Homo sapiens: one gene and its partners. The protein of the gene in region 3 purifies or fractionates together with the protein of the main gene of each other region. This does not show direct contact. Each region holds a gene or a part of one and is shown on either strand. Other genes may lie near its edges.

Region 1 (3,500 bases), on a different chromosome or scaffold from region 3:
TAATTAAACTGACTTCTCTTACCAATTTTTTATAAATAGAATTATATTTACTGTTAACAAATTATGAATCATTCCAAATTAAATACATAGTACAGTTGATCCTAATTATTCATGGAGGTTATGTTCTATATAGTTGCCTTGAACACTGTTAGCTAATATTGAACCATTGCTCTGAGGGAAATACAGGGTTAGGTTTCTGTGAGCCTCTGATCAACTGATCAATATATAGTCTTGTTTTATGTGTGCTTCTCTTTAAAGACACTTTATATAACATATGTTGTTGATTCATTAACACTGAACTCACCACTGAACTCACCACCAGCAGCACTGTAACTCGTGCCTGAATGAAGCTTTTCTAGCACATTATTTTCTCCATAAAGGCACATCACTGTCCTCTGGCGCTAGGAACACTAGACAGCGCTTCAGCACTATGCTTGGGAGCCTTTGCAAGCAGTGAATCACATACAGAGGGCCCAAAAATGTGAAATGCATGACACCAAAGAGACCCTGTAGAGGACACTTGTTTATAATATGAGAGCTTAAATGAGAAGGCAGAGCCTCTCCTGTTCAACCTCAGCTGGGAATGTGAGCATAGGACATCTCAAATTTTTCTCTGCTCTGCACGTGTCTACAAATGATCATAAAATTACCACAAGTATTGATTTGGGGTTTACAAATAAATATTAGCTTCTACACAAATTTGCAAATACAGAATACATGAATAATAATGACTGTATTCTCAATATCAGACTTTGAATCTTCATTTTACTTTAATTAGAATTTTAGAGTAGCAGTGTTCATGGTCTAAATTTTATATCACTAAACAACTATACCAAACTTACCAGTGTTTTAAAATTGAACAGTCACAATTTTTTTTTAAATATTTCTTTTTGGCATTTTATATTTATAGCCAAGCCTACAGATCATATAGCTATCTATTTCTTACCAGATGTTTTTTCCTCCTTTAGGAAACGATGCCCCCACCAACACATACTGCATTTTCTGGCCACCATCTGCCATTTGTTGGTTTTACATATACTAGTAGCTGGTAAGTTTGAAAAGTTAACATAGTTTGGGCCAAGTGCAGTGGCTCACGCCTGTAATCCCAACACTTTGGGAGGCCAAGACAGGTGTATCATGAGGTCAGGAGATCGAGACCAGCCTGGCCAATATGGTGAAACCCCATCTCTACTAAAAATACAAAACTTAGGTGGGCGTGGTGGCAGGTGCCTGTAATCCCAGCTACTCGGGAGGCCGAGGCAGGAGAATCACTTGAACCTGGGAGGTGGAGGTTGCAGTGAGCCGAGACTGCGCCATTGCAGTGCAGCCTGGGTGACAGAGCGAGACTCTGTCTTAAAAAAAAAAAAAGTTAACATAGTTTGGACAATTTAAAGCAAATTAAATTGAATTGAGGTTCGTAAAAGATGTATGAGAAAACTTTGTGAATTAAAACTTTTTAAAAAATAGAGTGAGCCTACTGCTGGAAATAGAAAGTTAAGCATTACAAAATGAATAGAACGCATGAAAATCTTAACTCGTTTTGGAGGGGAAAGAATGGAACAGAGAGCTCAGAATCTAATCCTTACCAATGAAGCAGTAATTAGAAGAGTTTCACGCTGTTGAATATTCTCTAGATGTCAAGCAGGAGAACTTTCAACCCATTAATTCTACCATCCTTTCACTGACCCTCACTTCACTTATATTCCCTATTTCCCCCTTACCCTGTTTAAATTCCATTGAGAATGATTATAATCACTCCTTGTATGCCATTTCAGTTCCTTTGACTGTCTCTCATTCTGTTATATTTGTTTTGCTAAGTGAACATTAACTATTACAATTTTATTCTCTACCTGTACAGTTCCAAATGACTAGAAAAAATAGCTGACTATTCTTACTGGTCTACTTTAAATTCATGATTACCAACCTCAAGTCCCCCTTGTCTGACAAATGTACTGTATTACCCTAGTATATTCACTCTTCCACTCACCTAGTAACTATTTTTTACTTTCTTTTTTTTTAAGAGATGGGGTCTTGTTCTGGGCAGCAGAAGGGCTGGAATGCAGTGGTGCAGTCCTAGCTCACTATAGCCTCAGACTCCTGGGCACAAATGATCCCCCTGCCTCAGCCTCCTGAGTAGCTGGGACAATAGGCACAAGCCACCATGCCCAGCTAATTTTTAAAACGATTTAGAAATGGAGTCTTGCTGTGCTGTCTAGGCTGGAGTGCAGTGGCACAGTCATAGATAACTACAGCCTCCTACTCCTCAAGCCGTCCTCTGGCCTTAACCTCCCCTGTTGCTGGGATTACAGATGTGAGCCACTGCATCTGGCCTATTTCTTTCTACTTGAGTTTGAAACCTCTGTCATCCTCACTTTCAGCTTGCATCTCCTTTCACTGAAAGGATTGAGGCAAACCGCAGACAACTTCCACAAGCTCCAGTTACCATATTTACCGCCTACTTACTGTTAGACCCAAATTCTCTGTTCTTTTCATGGATGAACTGTGCAAGCCTCTAGTAAGGCCAGTATCTTCCATCCCTTCCTGGCTAGTCTAGTGCATGTTTTGCTTTCATGTCATGAATTTTTTTCTTCTTGTGTCATCTGCATCATCAGATCATTTCTATCAGCTTACAAATGTCAGTTCTCCATCTTAATGCAAAATATAAAATCTGGATTCCTCTTCCTTTACCTCTTATCAACCATGTCTCTGCTTTACATTATAGAAAATTTACTTCAACTGTTGACTATATTTTGTTTATGTTTCTCATACTGTTGTTTCTTGAATCCATTCCAGTCAGGTGTGTGCCCCCATCACTTCATGCAAACTACTTTTATCGATGTCACTGTTGACCAACATGTTGCTAAATCTAATGATCACTTGTCAGTCCTAGTCTTACTTATTTGCTTAGTCTCATCTTATTTGCCACAGCTCCATACTTTTAAAATACCACCTTCTCCTGTCTTCTAGGGCACTTGACTGAGTTTCTCTCACCTTGCTGGTCATTCCTTCTCAGTCTCCATACCTGATCCCTCCTGATTTCCCTGGCTTGTTAATATCAGAGTGTCCTATGGCTCAGTCTTTGGACTTCTCTTTTCCATCTAAACTCTGTAGTGTTCTCCCAAAGATTTGCTGATGACTCCTAAACGTGCATCTCCAACTGAGACCTCTCCTCTCGTCTACTTAAAAATCTGTCTTAACCACCCACTTACTATGTAAATAACTTTCTTTTAGTTCTCTGATCCTGTTCAGGTGATCCTCTTAAAAGATAATCAGAACATGTCACTCCCCTGTTCAGAACCAGTCCACCCATCCCCAACTCCAGTGGCTTCATATTTTAACTCCAAATCAAACTTCTTACAAGGCCCTACATGACTGCCTTACTTTTATCTTTCTGAGTTTATTTTTCCTTGTTTACTCAACTCCATCCACACAGGCCTCCTTTCTGGGCTGTGAACATGCCAGACATACTCTTGTCTCGGGGCTTTAGTACTTCTGTTTCA
Region 2 (3,500 bases), on a different chromosome or scaffold from region 3:
GAGGCTTCTGGGGACATAGACAAAAATTCTAGGGGTCGTGGAGGTTAGGGAGAGAGTTGAGGGGGAGGGGAGAAGTGAGGATAGGGGAAGGGAGTCTAAAGCTTAGGGAAGTCACTGAGTGACTTGCAGGAGGTTAGATGGGGCCTAGAGAAGGACCTACTGAGGCCGACCAGAGGAGTTACAGTGGGGTCTGATCTTAGCCACTCTGGCTGTGGAATTTGACCTTGGAATCAAGGAGGGGACAGATGTGAATGTGTGCATCCCCTGTGTGCATGTTACTGGTGTGCTGGTGTGTCAGTGTGTCTGTCTGCCTGCCTGCCCTCCTATTCTGTACCCAGATGCTCTGGGCTACTGTTTTGAACAGTGGTCAGCAAAGTAGGGGGTTCGTGCTCTCTGGCCACGAGGAAGTAGCTTCATCCTTAGCTTCAGTTTCTGGTTGGAAATATCATCTAGGAGCTGAGTGAGCGGATTGGTTAGGATTTCTGAAGCTGGTAAGAGAAAAGGCTGAGAGGAGCTGGCTGGACCCTTCCGGGTTTGTTTATGTCTCTTTGGGAGAGGGTGGGGGTGGGGTTGCAGGCAGCAGCTGCCCCCCTCCCAACCCAGCCGGCCTGCCTTGTGCCAGGAGGGCAGGGAGTCCTGGCACAGCTATTGTTCACTTGCACAAATGCCTGTCTGTTTGCATCGCTTACCCCCCCTCTCTTTCTGCTTGTCTCTCTCTCCTGGCCTGACAGGTGTGGCCGCGTAGGGGGCAGGCTGGGTTCCAGGATGCTTGGGTCTCAGGGTCCCTAACCTGATTTATTCCTTGTGGCCCTTAGCAATCCTCTTCCGTTTCACCCGTACCCACTCCCATTGCCAGTGTCTCATCTTCATTCACTAAGCAAGCATTTATTAAGTGCCTTTGTGTGTGCAGTGATGTCTTTCTGTGTTGTTTCTGGCTTTGGCATTAGTGTTTCCACTTGGCTGCCTTCCCCTCTGCCTCCTGTCTTCATCTTGTCCCTGGAAGCTCATAAAGGAGCAGGGCCCGGCTGAGACCACCCCAAGCCCTCTTCTCAGTCCCACCCCCAGCAATCCCTCACCTCTTCATTTCCCAGCCCTATAGCTCCTCCTCCAGGACTCAGTGCCCTTCATAGCCAACGGCGCCTCTGCTGTACAGGGGCTGAGCCACAGGTGACTCGAATCCTGGTGGAATGCTCCACAGGCTCTCCGGTCACTATTACAGAGGGTGTGGACAGAGGTGTCACCATCTTGGGGAAGGGGCTGCTGCCAGGTACAGCTGGAGGAGAGGTGATTCTGAGTACTCTGTGACTCTCCCAGAAGTCTTGATTTGGACATACCTGAGAGAGAAGCAAAGGCAGCTGAGAGAGCTGGGCACAGTGGCTCGCACCTGTAATCCTAGCATTTTGGAAGACCAAGGCAGCTGGATCGCATGAGCTCAGGAATTTGAGACAAGCCTGGGCAACATAGTGAGACCTCATCTCTACAAAAACATTAAGTTTTTAAAATCTATTATTAAAAAAAAAAAAGTCAGATGAGAGCTTAGGGCTTGCTTGGAGAAGCTCTACCTCGCCTGGGTGGATCTGCCTGGCCTTGCTGCCTGCTGGGAGCCCAGGAAGCCAAAGTCCTAGCCTTGGCATTGCCTTCCCCTCCATGTACGTCACTGTTTCCTCATCCCTTATTCTGGGAGACAAAGTGGAGAGAAGAGGGGAGACTGTGTTTGCCTTTGAGCTTTTCAGTAGAGATCCACAATGCCCTCTGCCATTGCTCCCATCTTTCTTTCTTTTTTCTTTTCTTTTTTTTTTTTTGAGACAGAGTCTCGCTCTGTCACCCAGGCTGGAGTGCAGTGGCATGATCTTGGCTCACTGCAACCTCCACCTCCTGCGTTCAAGCAATTCTCCTGCCTCAGCCTCCTGAGTAGTTGGGATTACAGGTGCCCACCACCATACCCGGCCAATTTTTGTATTTTTAGTAGAGATGGGGTTTTGCCATGTTGGCCAGGCTGGTCTCAAACTCCTGATCTCAAGTGATCTGCCCGCCTCGGCCTCTCAAAGTGTTAGGATTATAGGCATGAGCCACTGCGCTCGGCCTGGCCCTGTCTTTCTTTCCCAAAAGTGACTGAGATCTGGGATGACAGTGGAAGGAAGTTTGGGGTTGGTCTTCTGACTTCCAGAGGAAACCCTCAGGGTCTAAACTCAAAGGAAATAGGAGAGAATGGCTTAGAGCCCTTCAGGAGGAGGGAGAAAAGAGAAACAAGAAGAGACAGAAGGTTCTAAAGCTCTGATAAGGAAGGAAGAGGGTTTCCAGAATAGGGGCCAGGGTGCTACTGAGACCCCATGTCTTGGTGTCCATACATCCTTCCTTGCTTCTTTGCTTCCTTCCTTTTCTTTCATTTTGAGACATGTATTGGGTGCCTATTGTATACCAGGTATTGTGCTAAGGGCTTTCATATTCTTTATTTATCCTTGATGTAGCAGTAGTGTGGATGAAGGTGTGTAGCAAGAAGAACTTCCCATGGGATTTGTGAGAAAGAGACAGAATGACTCTAGGTCTGAGCGTGGTGGCTCACACCTATAATTCTAGCACTTTGGGGAGGCTGGGGCAGGAGGATCACTTGATCCTAGGAGTTCGAGACCAGCCTGGGCAACATAGCAAGACGCTGTCTCTACAAAAAAAATTTAAAAATTAGGTGAGCATCATGATGCATGCCTGTGGTCCCAGCTATTTGGAGGGCTGAGGTGGAAGGATCACTTGAGCCCGGGAGGTCAAGGCTGCGGTGAGCCATGATCATGCCAATGTACTCCAGTCCAGGCAACAGAGTGAGACCCTGTCTCAAAAAAAAAAAGAAAAAAAAAAGTATCTAGATGCTGGAGAGCAAAGGACTGAACCAAGCAGGAAGGGCCTCTGAGCACTGGGGTGGGTGTTATGGATTGTGGAGTAATGGGCCCTTTTTCTTGGTGCATAGGTTGGGTCTTGGAGGTAAAGGGCTGTCCTACTTGGGCGTGGGTAAATGGGAGACCAATGTGATTATCTTAAGAATACCTGGAAAAGAGTAGGACAAAGAACCAAACAAGCCCACTCACTCCACCTCTGGAGCAGGCACCCCTGGTAAGCAGGCCCTATGTCCTTCCATCCTCAGAAGCCTGAGCCCTGGGGCGGGCACAGGCAACCTCCGGGACAATAGCACTAGGCAGTGCCAGGGTCGCTTGCTGCTGGGCAGTGCCCATGCTGGGATGTGCTGCTGCTGTGGCTGCTGCCCGCTGCTGGCCCACCTAGAGCAGGGGTCACTTCGAGAGAGGGTGAGTGTTGGGAGGTGGAGGAGGCAGGGCCCAGAGTACCAGGGCTGTCTGTGGAGCATTGATGCCAGAGAGAGGAAGGGCCACTAGAGACCCTGTTCTCTGGCTGCCCCAGTCTTCTCCCTCCCTTTGCCACTCCATCTGAGCTGGTCAGACAGATGAGTGTTTGTGGATGCCACAGGGGGAGGGTGGAGGGCAAAGGACAGAGGT
Region 3 (3,977 bases):
CCTTGATTCTGTAAGTGGTAGTTCTAACTTTGAAATGGGTCATCTAACTTATAACTATTTTCTTCATTTCTTTTTAAAAGGGAGAAATAGCATGCAAATTTCTGGCATGTTGATAGAAAGTTCAGCATTTTTTCCCTGACATGAAATATTTCATTTAGAATGCGTATGTTTCCTCTACGTATAAGGTTTCCTAGAGTCAGATATGATAAAAACAAACTCTGAGATGTATATACCTATGTTCCTACAAGTGTAAAACCTGAATGATGTCTCTGGAAATGGAGCCTCGGAGTGACCAGGAACACAAATACTTATATGTCACAGAAATAGAGGGGCACATACTTTGAAATATTTCAATGGAAATCAAAAATTGTAGTTTACTGGATTGAAATTAGTATCCTCTACTTAAACATTTTTGACACAAACTCAATGCTGATTCAGATCTGTAATCCATGTAGCTCATAATAACTTACTTGGTAGAAGTATTTCAGATTAATGAATTGTACAATTGTACAAATTAATAAATTGTACAATTGTTCAACTATACAATTAATTGTACAATTTGTATAGTTGAAAAAATCTATAAATTAATTTATAGATAAATTATCAAAGAAGACAACATTTTAAATAGTTATTCCCAATATTTTTTCTTCCATAATTAAAATAAAAGTAAGTATCTCAGCAATTGCTTGTTCTTAAAATTTCACTGCTATCTCAGCAGTCATGTAAGTTATTCTGGCTATTTAATTTTTCACTTTTGTTTGCATACTGTAACAGTTGGTAGGATAATTAATTTTGATTGTACATTTCCATTGAACTTTTGATGAAATTGTTTCACTCTTTTTATTAGAATAAAATTATTAGGAAAGTCTTCTAAAGAGAGGTTTTCTGTTTGTTTTTCCTTTGAGGAAGGTAGAGAGATGGGAAACGAAGACACCAAATATAAAGTCATTCCTCTATCTCTCATTTTAAAACCTGTTTTAAAGGTTGTAGCTAGTCAGGAAAACTGAAAAATCAACTGGTATTCCTAACTAAAGCAGGGCTTTGAAACTCTGCTACTAGCGACAGGGTTGGGAAAATTCCGGTTGCTCTTCTTGTCTGTGATATACGGTAGAAGGGTTGGTCCTGGTTTGGTCCACCTGCCAGCGGAGTTTAAAGTTTCCGAGGCTCAGAGGAACACAATGACTTGGATCAAACAGCCTAAATGGGAAGAAGGACATTTTTGCTGCATCAAGGAAGCCGTTAAACTCCTGCTAAGCTAACTAGCTCTTTTTTATGGGTCCATGCACACGACCGAACTCCTCTTTCACTGACCAGAGATTATTTCTGACAACCCAGGATATCCCGAAAGCTTGGAGGCATATGGCTGGAAAATGAAACGACCCAGGACATCGTTTCTGGCTGCATCATTATTTTGTGTCGCGTAGTACCAGATGGGCAGTCAGTGAGCGGCGCAGGGATGTGAACGGACGGTTTTATAATGTGAAAATTTTCCCTTGGTAAAGCTAAAACAGATTTAATTTCCCTCTCTTTTCTTTCACTACTTCCCCCTCTTTATTCCCCCTCTGTCTGCAATATCAGTGAACTCAACTTTGCAGTGAGGTGGCCAAAAAGAGAGAGAATGAGGAGATCTTGATCATCTTAGTGTCGGAGGAGTCGCAGCGGACTGGGAACTGCAGCTGCGACCCCCCGCGTCCTGTGCGGATTTCAGGGCTGATACCGCATAGGCGGTTATGGAAAGGACGGTACACCGGAGCGGCGGAGGATAGAGACCCTGGCCCCCGGAGAGGTCTGCTGATTTCGCAGCAGCCTTCGAAGCCGTGGCTGCCTTTCATCTGCTGCGTTTTATTACTATTATCGCCGTTCCGGAAAAGTCATGGAAGACAGCCCGCTGCCAGACCTCAGAGACATCGAGCTGAAGCTGGGGCGCAAAGTACCCGAGAGTCTAGTGCGCTCTCTCCGTGGGGAGGAGCCGGTTCCCAGGGAAAGGGACAGGGACCCCTGCGGGGGGAGCGGTGGTGGTGGCGGCGGCGGCGGCGGCTGCAGTAGCAGCAGCAGCTACTGCAGCTTCCCTCCCTCCTTGTCGTCCTCCTCTTCGTCCTCCCCAACCTCTGGCTCCCCACGAGGTAGCCACTCTAGCGCCCTGGAGAGGCTAGAAACCAAGCTTCACCTCCTCAGGCAAGAGATGGTGAGTGTGGTGCGCCAGCCGCGGGGGCTGGGACCTGGGCTGGGCCAAAAGATGGGGCGATCTGAGAATGGGGCTGGGAGAGAGGACGGCAGGGGCTGCAGAGCGGAGCGCTGGGCGCGTGGGAAATGCTGGGTGGAGGAATGAGCAGGGGGCGCTCATCCGGAGGCAGCTGCTGCGAGGCTTGTTTACCGCGGACTTTGCTCGGTCACGGTTTGCAAAGACAGCACAGTCGGCTGGCTCCACTCTGTGTACTTTCGGACAACGCGACTCACTGCGCCGGGCTCTATTTAGCTGCCAGCCCGTAGCCTCTTAGGCACCAGCCCGTTGAGAGTTTGCAGTTATTGCACCCATCTAAGGCCTGCTGTGCGCTGTTAACACTTCGGGTAGGTTCAAAAGGTGGCTCAGTCCAATGCACTTACTGCAAAAATACTTCCTGGTTTGCCGGGAGGTGGCGTGGCAGGGTCCTTGCAGCCTTTCCTCCTAGCTCACCCTTCCACCAGTACCGCTCCGCCCTCCTGCCCTCCCTTCTTGGTGCAGCAGCCGCAGCTGTTCCAAGGCCACTGTCGAGCAGATTCTCCACAGCTGGTTCTGAAAACAATGGCCTACTCGTCCTTGATGTACTTATGAATAGCTTGTTTCACTATTTTGATCCCAGGGAGCAGGTGATCCCCAGGCCCAGGGATCTGCTAAGGACCATCTCCCACCCTTCTCCCTCAAGTCTCAATCTGCAGTTGTTTTCCCTGCTGTTTGCAAACGTTTGCCTGAGCATAGGACAATGAGATAAGTACAAGGTCTAGGAATACTCATTCTGGAAGTATTTAGACTAAGACACTATTTACTTGCCATGAGCTCTTGGGCACGTCACTTCACTTCTGTAGACCTCTGTGAATTTGATGAGCTGGTTAGAGAAAATGATCCCTCCCTAAGTCCTTTGAAAAAAACGACCACAAAGCAACAGCATTTTCTACTAGCTTGGAGATAAGGAAAGTTGCAACAGTGGGCCTCAAAAAGAGAAAATAATTTCATTAAATTAACTTCACAGTTGCTTTTGATTTGCTTCAAAGTAGGCTAGGAGATTTCTATCACTCCGACAGGAATGCTGGAAATTATTTCTATCATTCTATCGTTTAGTTATTATAGAGTTCTATCATTTAGTGATTGTTATTTTTTAGGTTGGACAAAAATTTAAGGACAACCCTTAGGTACATAATGGAGAAGCTGGAAAGTGGAAGTCATCTTGATGAGTTTGCAAAATAGATGAAAAGATAAAATGGAAAAGATGACAAACCAACAGGTCAGGGGATGCCTGATACCGTATCACAAAGATCAGACATACGTGTGGAGACTAACAGGTAAAACTATTTTCCACAAGAAAATTTCTTGTACAAGGAATTAAGAATGTTGCTAACTCTGCAAATTAAGGACTTAATATGAGGGACGAAGACATCAAGGAGATGAGGAAATTTTATTCCTAACCATGTCTTCTGTAATTTTACCCATGGAATGTTAATATATTCACTTAATCTAATAAATAAATCTTGTTGAAACATATTTTCTTTCTCAGTAGCTCACTGATAGCACATCAAAGATAATACTGTCATTTTGCTGGACACTCAGACACAATTTAGAGTATTTATATATAACTTGAAAACAGTAACATTTCCAAAAACCGATGAACCCCACCCTGTCCCAAGGAATGATTGGTATGTATGTGAAGATCATTTTCTGACAAAAATAATTACGTTCCACTTAGGATGCACAACCATGTTGTCCTGTAGAGAAGTCACAAGTT
Region 4 (3,500 bases), on a different chromosome or scaffold from region 3:
TTTCCTTAATTTGGCTCAGGATGACCATGTGTTGCTAAGATCAGTGTAAAGCAATGTTAAGAGTCTATAAGTACAAGCTTTAAGTGTTACTACTAAATTAAATTCTGGACTTGAGGCATTTTGAAAATCACATTCAATATGATTCATTTTTCCTTGAAATGAAGTTGTTATATCATGCCAGTGACACAACCAGAGGTGAGATCCTAATAGCTCTTGAGGGAATGGGCCTTGCATGATCAAATTTAAATAAAATTTAGCACCTAAATTCAGTAATGGAGGCAAGCAATAGCATGGGAATTAACCAACTTCACTTGGGCTACTTTCGCAATAAAGAAGACAATACAAGTCAACAATATAGCACCATGCTGCCATAAAAACCCTTAAAAGTAGCAATTAGTTCAAATTTTATAAGTAATTGTGAGACAGCAGTCTGAGTTTTCTAAAATCAAACATACAAAAAACACACTTTCAATAGGCCAGTTAAATTAGTTATTGGCTGACTTTTAAGATAGTTAAGTACCTTAATAATAAAATAATTAAGGACATGGCTCTCTTGAAACTTAGTGTTTTAAAGAAGGTTCCATGTTCAAAAAATGTAAGTTGTAAAGATCTAACAGCAATTATTTACCTATATTAAGATTCATATGAGTTAAAAAATTATAGAAAACATATCCATCAACATAATGAGTTAGAAAATATACCAAAAATTAATATTGCCAGAATTCTTAATCAGAAAAACAAGCTCCAAGACCTCTGGAAGTCTTGGCAATATTTCTGTCCAATGTAGCCATTTATCTCCCCAGAAGTAAAATTTAAAGGTCTCAACTAAAATAAAACACTCTCTTCAGGAACTGGGTGACTATCATTAAGTACTCCATCGATTGGTAGTTGTATGTGTCCTATCTTATCTATTAAAAAATGGCTAAACACTATTCAGTAGGTGATATGTTTCTATGGAATCAAGACTTACATTCTTACAGGTTTGCCCATAGGTATTAGTTCTTCTTAAGATCTAGCTCCCTTATTAAAAGAAGAAATTTTAAAGAGTTCTAGAAGCTCAGATTACTTTTCCATTCAATTACATTTAAGAAGCCTGCTTGTATAGTCATTAAGGTGAATAAAACCAGATTATGGTACATACCATTATCAAACAGTTAAAGTATATATCTTCATCAAACATTATTAGTATCTCATGTCATTTGATTACACAGAGGCTTTTTTTTTCTTCCTGAGATGGAGTCTCACTCTTGTTGCCCAGGCTGGAGTGCAATGGCGTGATCTCAGTTCGCCACAACCTCCACCTCCCAGGTTCAAGCGATTCTCCTGCCTCAGCCTCCCAAGTAGCTGGAATTACAGGCATGCACCACCATGCACAGCTAATTTTTGTATTTTTAGTAGAGACGGGCTTTCTCCATGTTGGTCAGGCTGGTCTTGAACTCCCAACCTTAGACGATCTGCCCGCCTCGGCCTCCCAAAGTGCTGGGATTACAGGCGTGAGCCACGATGCCCGGCCAACACAGAGGCTTTTATTAAATGATTCTATTTCATAAAAATGCACCTGTTTCAATCTCACCTTGCTTACAGACCACATACAACAAGACACATCTGTCTAATGGCAAGTTTCACATTCCTGCACAGCAGATTTCATGAGTCCTAAACAGGCTACATCAGAGTCTACCACAGGAAAAATCAGATTTCAAAATATCTTACCCCAGATATGAGAAACACTTTACAGAAGTCCAAAACTGGCAGAATCTGTAGGAAACTGGCAGCTTCCAGCGTGTCTTGAAGGTTGTCCATATTAAGAGAAAGCTTTGCAGTATAAATGAAATCAATAATTTTCCTTAGACCGACTTTGCTCACACCATGAAGTTTAATGCACATTAAATCTTGTTCTTTCATTCCACCTTAAATAAAAAGACATTCAATTAAATGAAGGTGGATAATTATGGTCAAACTCACTTCTGCTGCTAATTAGATGCAATAAAATCAAAGGAAAGTCTTATCTTATATAAGCAGTCATATTAGAGTCAGTCTGCTGCACATTTTACTGTTAAAAGAAAGTACTTAAAAAAGATAATCTCTATACTAATGGAGGTCATATATGATGCAAGTGCTTCCAAAATGTTCTCACTTCCTATTTTTTGACATAGAGTAGAGATTGTACTAGGAGGACACAGAGTCTCTGATGGCCCACTAGATATAAGCTTGAAAAAGAAAAGCTGTGAGATAAAGATGGACAGTATGAAAAAAGTGCATCAATTTTCCATGTTAAAACAGCACCACCGAAAACCATACATACTGTTGTGTACTTCTTTTGAAGCTGTTTCCAAAAGAACCAAATTTCATGTTAGAAATAAAAAAGATTTAAACACGGATTTTTCATATTGTTTTAATGTGGTTTCAGAGTTTTAAAAGGCAAACTACCTGTGAACATAGCCTTGAAGTAATCACTAGCAGATGCCATCATGACTCTATGCACAGGGAAAGCATCATCTGTGTCACCTGGCATCAGGGTCACATCACAAAGCAATCCTTCAAGTCGAAGCTGGTCAAAGCCCTACAACAAGAACATGAGTTGAGTCACTAATCAAGGTAAAATGAGGTTACAAATCTTCGTGTGCTAAAATTGTTTGAATATTAATGTGGTGCAACATATGTGGAACATAAAGCCAACAGAATATTCGGGAGAAGAAAAAATAACTGCACAACTTTCCTGATATGTGACAATGCATGTTTTCTTTCACTGTAGGAATAACACAAAATTAAGACTAATTTAGGTTAAAAACGATTAAGGAAAAAGTATATACTTTTGCTTATTTACACAATTATCAGCTTTTACCTTATTTTGAAAAATAATTACAATGTGCACTTCTACTTTCCCATCTGCAGAATGAGAGTATTAGACTGTCTTAACATTCCTTTTCGCGATAATTTAATAGTCCTTTTATAGTGCTTGACTGAAGCATCTTGGTTTTGTTTTGTTTTGGGGGAGGTTGAGAAAGAAAAGTAGAGAGCAACTGTATTAAGTACACGATAGTTCTTTCTACTAATTGTATTACTTCATCTCTTTGAGAAGCCTATACTCAGTACATTGCTGCTGCCTGGCCAAATATCTTTCAAGTTTCAAGTTTGAGACTTAATTATCTTTGTTTGAAAAAAAACAAAAAAAAGCCCAGGAAACCCCAACATGAGACTTAATTGTCTCCAAATGCCTAAAGGTTTAGTGGAGAATTAACAGGCTAGCAGCCACAATTCAGAGGAGTGACAGAGCTCTGGTGAGAAGAATCCTTGTTGATTAGCTTTTTCACTACACCCTGATGGTCTCAACTAACGACAAATAGACAGTTGTTCTATTGATATAAGTTGGAAGAATGACAATCACTTTTAAGATTATAACAGGTTGAATCTACAACATACACATATTTCAAAACATCATGTTTTTCAATTTTTATCTTTTATTTTTAATTTTTGTGGGTACAGAGATGTATGCTTTAGGG

What was found.
Region 1: the proteins of LURAP1L (region 3) and CDC42BPA purify together in Homo sapiens (affinity purification with mass spectrometry; 3 studies listed by BioGRID and IntAct, with this or other methods). This does not show direct contact.
Region 2: the proteins of LURAP1L (region 3) and ARHGEF2 purify together in Homo sapiens (affinity purification with mass spectrometry; one large-scale study listed by BioGRID and IntAct). This does not show direct contact.
Region 4: the proteins of LURAP1L (region 3) and KLHL13 purify together in Homo sapiens (affinity purification with mass spectrometry; one large-scale study listed by BioGRID and IntAct). This does not show direct contact.

Annotation. Positions count from the first base shown.
Region 1 is NC_000001.11:227,140,493-227,143,992, reverse strand, and holds part of CDC42BPA (serine/threonine-protein kinase MRCK alpha), read left to right. Parts: intron 1-968; coding exon 969-1,048; intron 1,049-3,500. UniProt on the Homo sapiens protein: Serine/threonine-protein kinase which is an important downstream effector of CDC42 and plays a role in the regulation of cytoskeleton reorganization and cell migration. Regulates actin cytoskeletal reorganization via phosphorylation of PPP1R12C and MYL9/MLC2.
Region 2 is NC_000001.11:155,972,048-155,975,547, reverse strand, and holds part of ARHGEF2 (rho guanine nucleotide exchange factor 2), read left to right. Parts: intron 1-3,500. UniProt on the Homo sapiens protein: Activates Rho-GTPases by promoting the exchange of GDP for GTP.
Region 3 is NC_000009.12:12,773,843-12,777,819, forward strand, and holds the start of LURAP1L (leucine rich adaptor protein 1-like), read left to right. Parts: upstream 1-1,177; 5' UTR 1,178-1,873; coding exon 1,874-2,185; intron 2,186-3,357; coding exon of another isoform or gene 3,358-3,387; exon of another isoform or gene 3,388-3,736; intron 3,737-3,977.
Region 4 is NC_000023.11:117,917,811-117,921,310, forward strand, and holds part of KLHL13 (kelch-like protein 13), read right to left. Parts: intron 2,561-3,500; coding exon 2,428-2,560; intron 1,908-2,427; coding exon 1,711-1,907; intron 1-1,710. UniProt on the Homo sapiens protein: Substrate-specific adapter of a BCR (BTB-CUL3-RBX1) E3 ubiquitin-protein ligase complex required for mitotic progression and cytokinesis.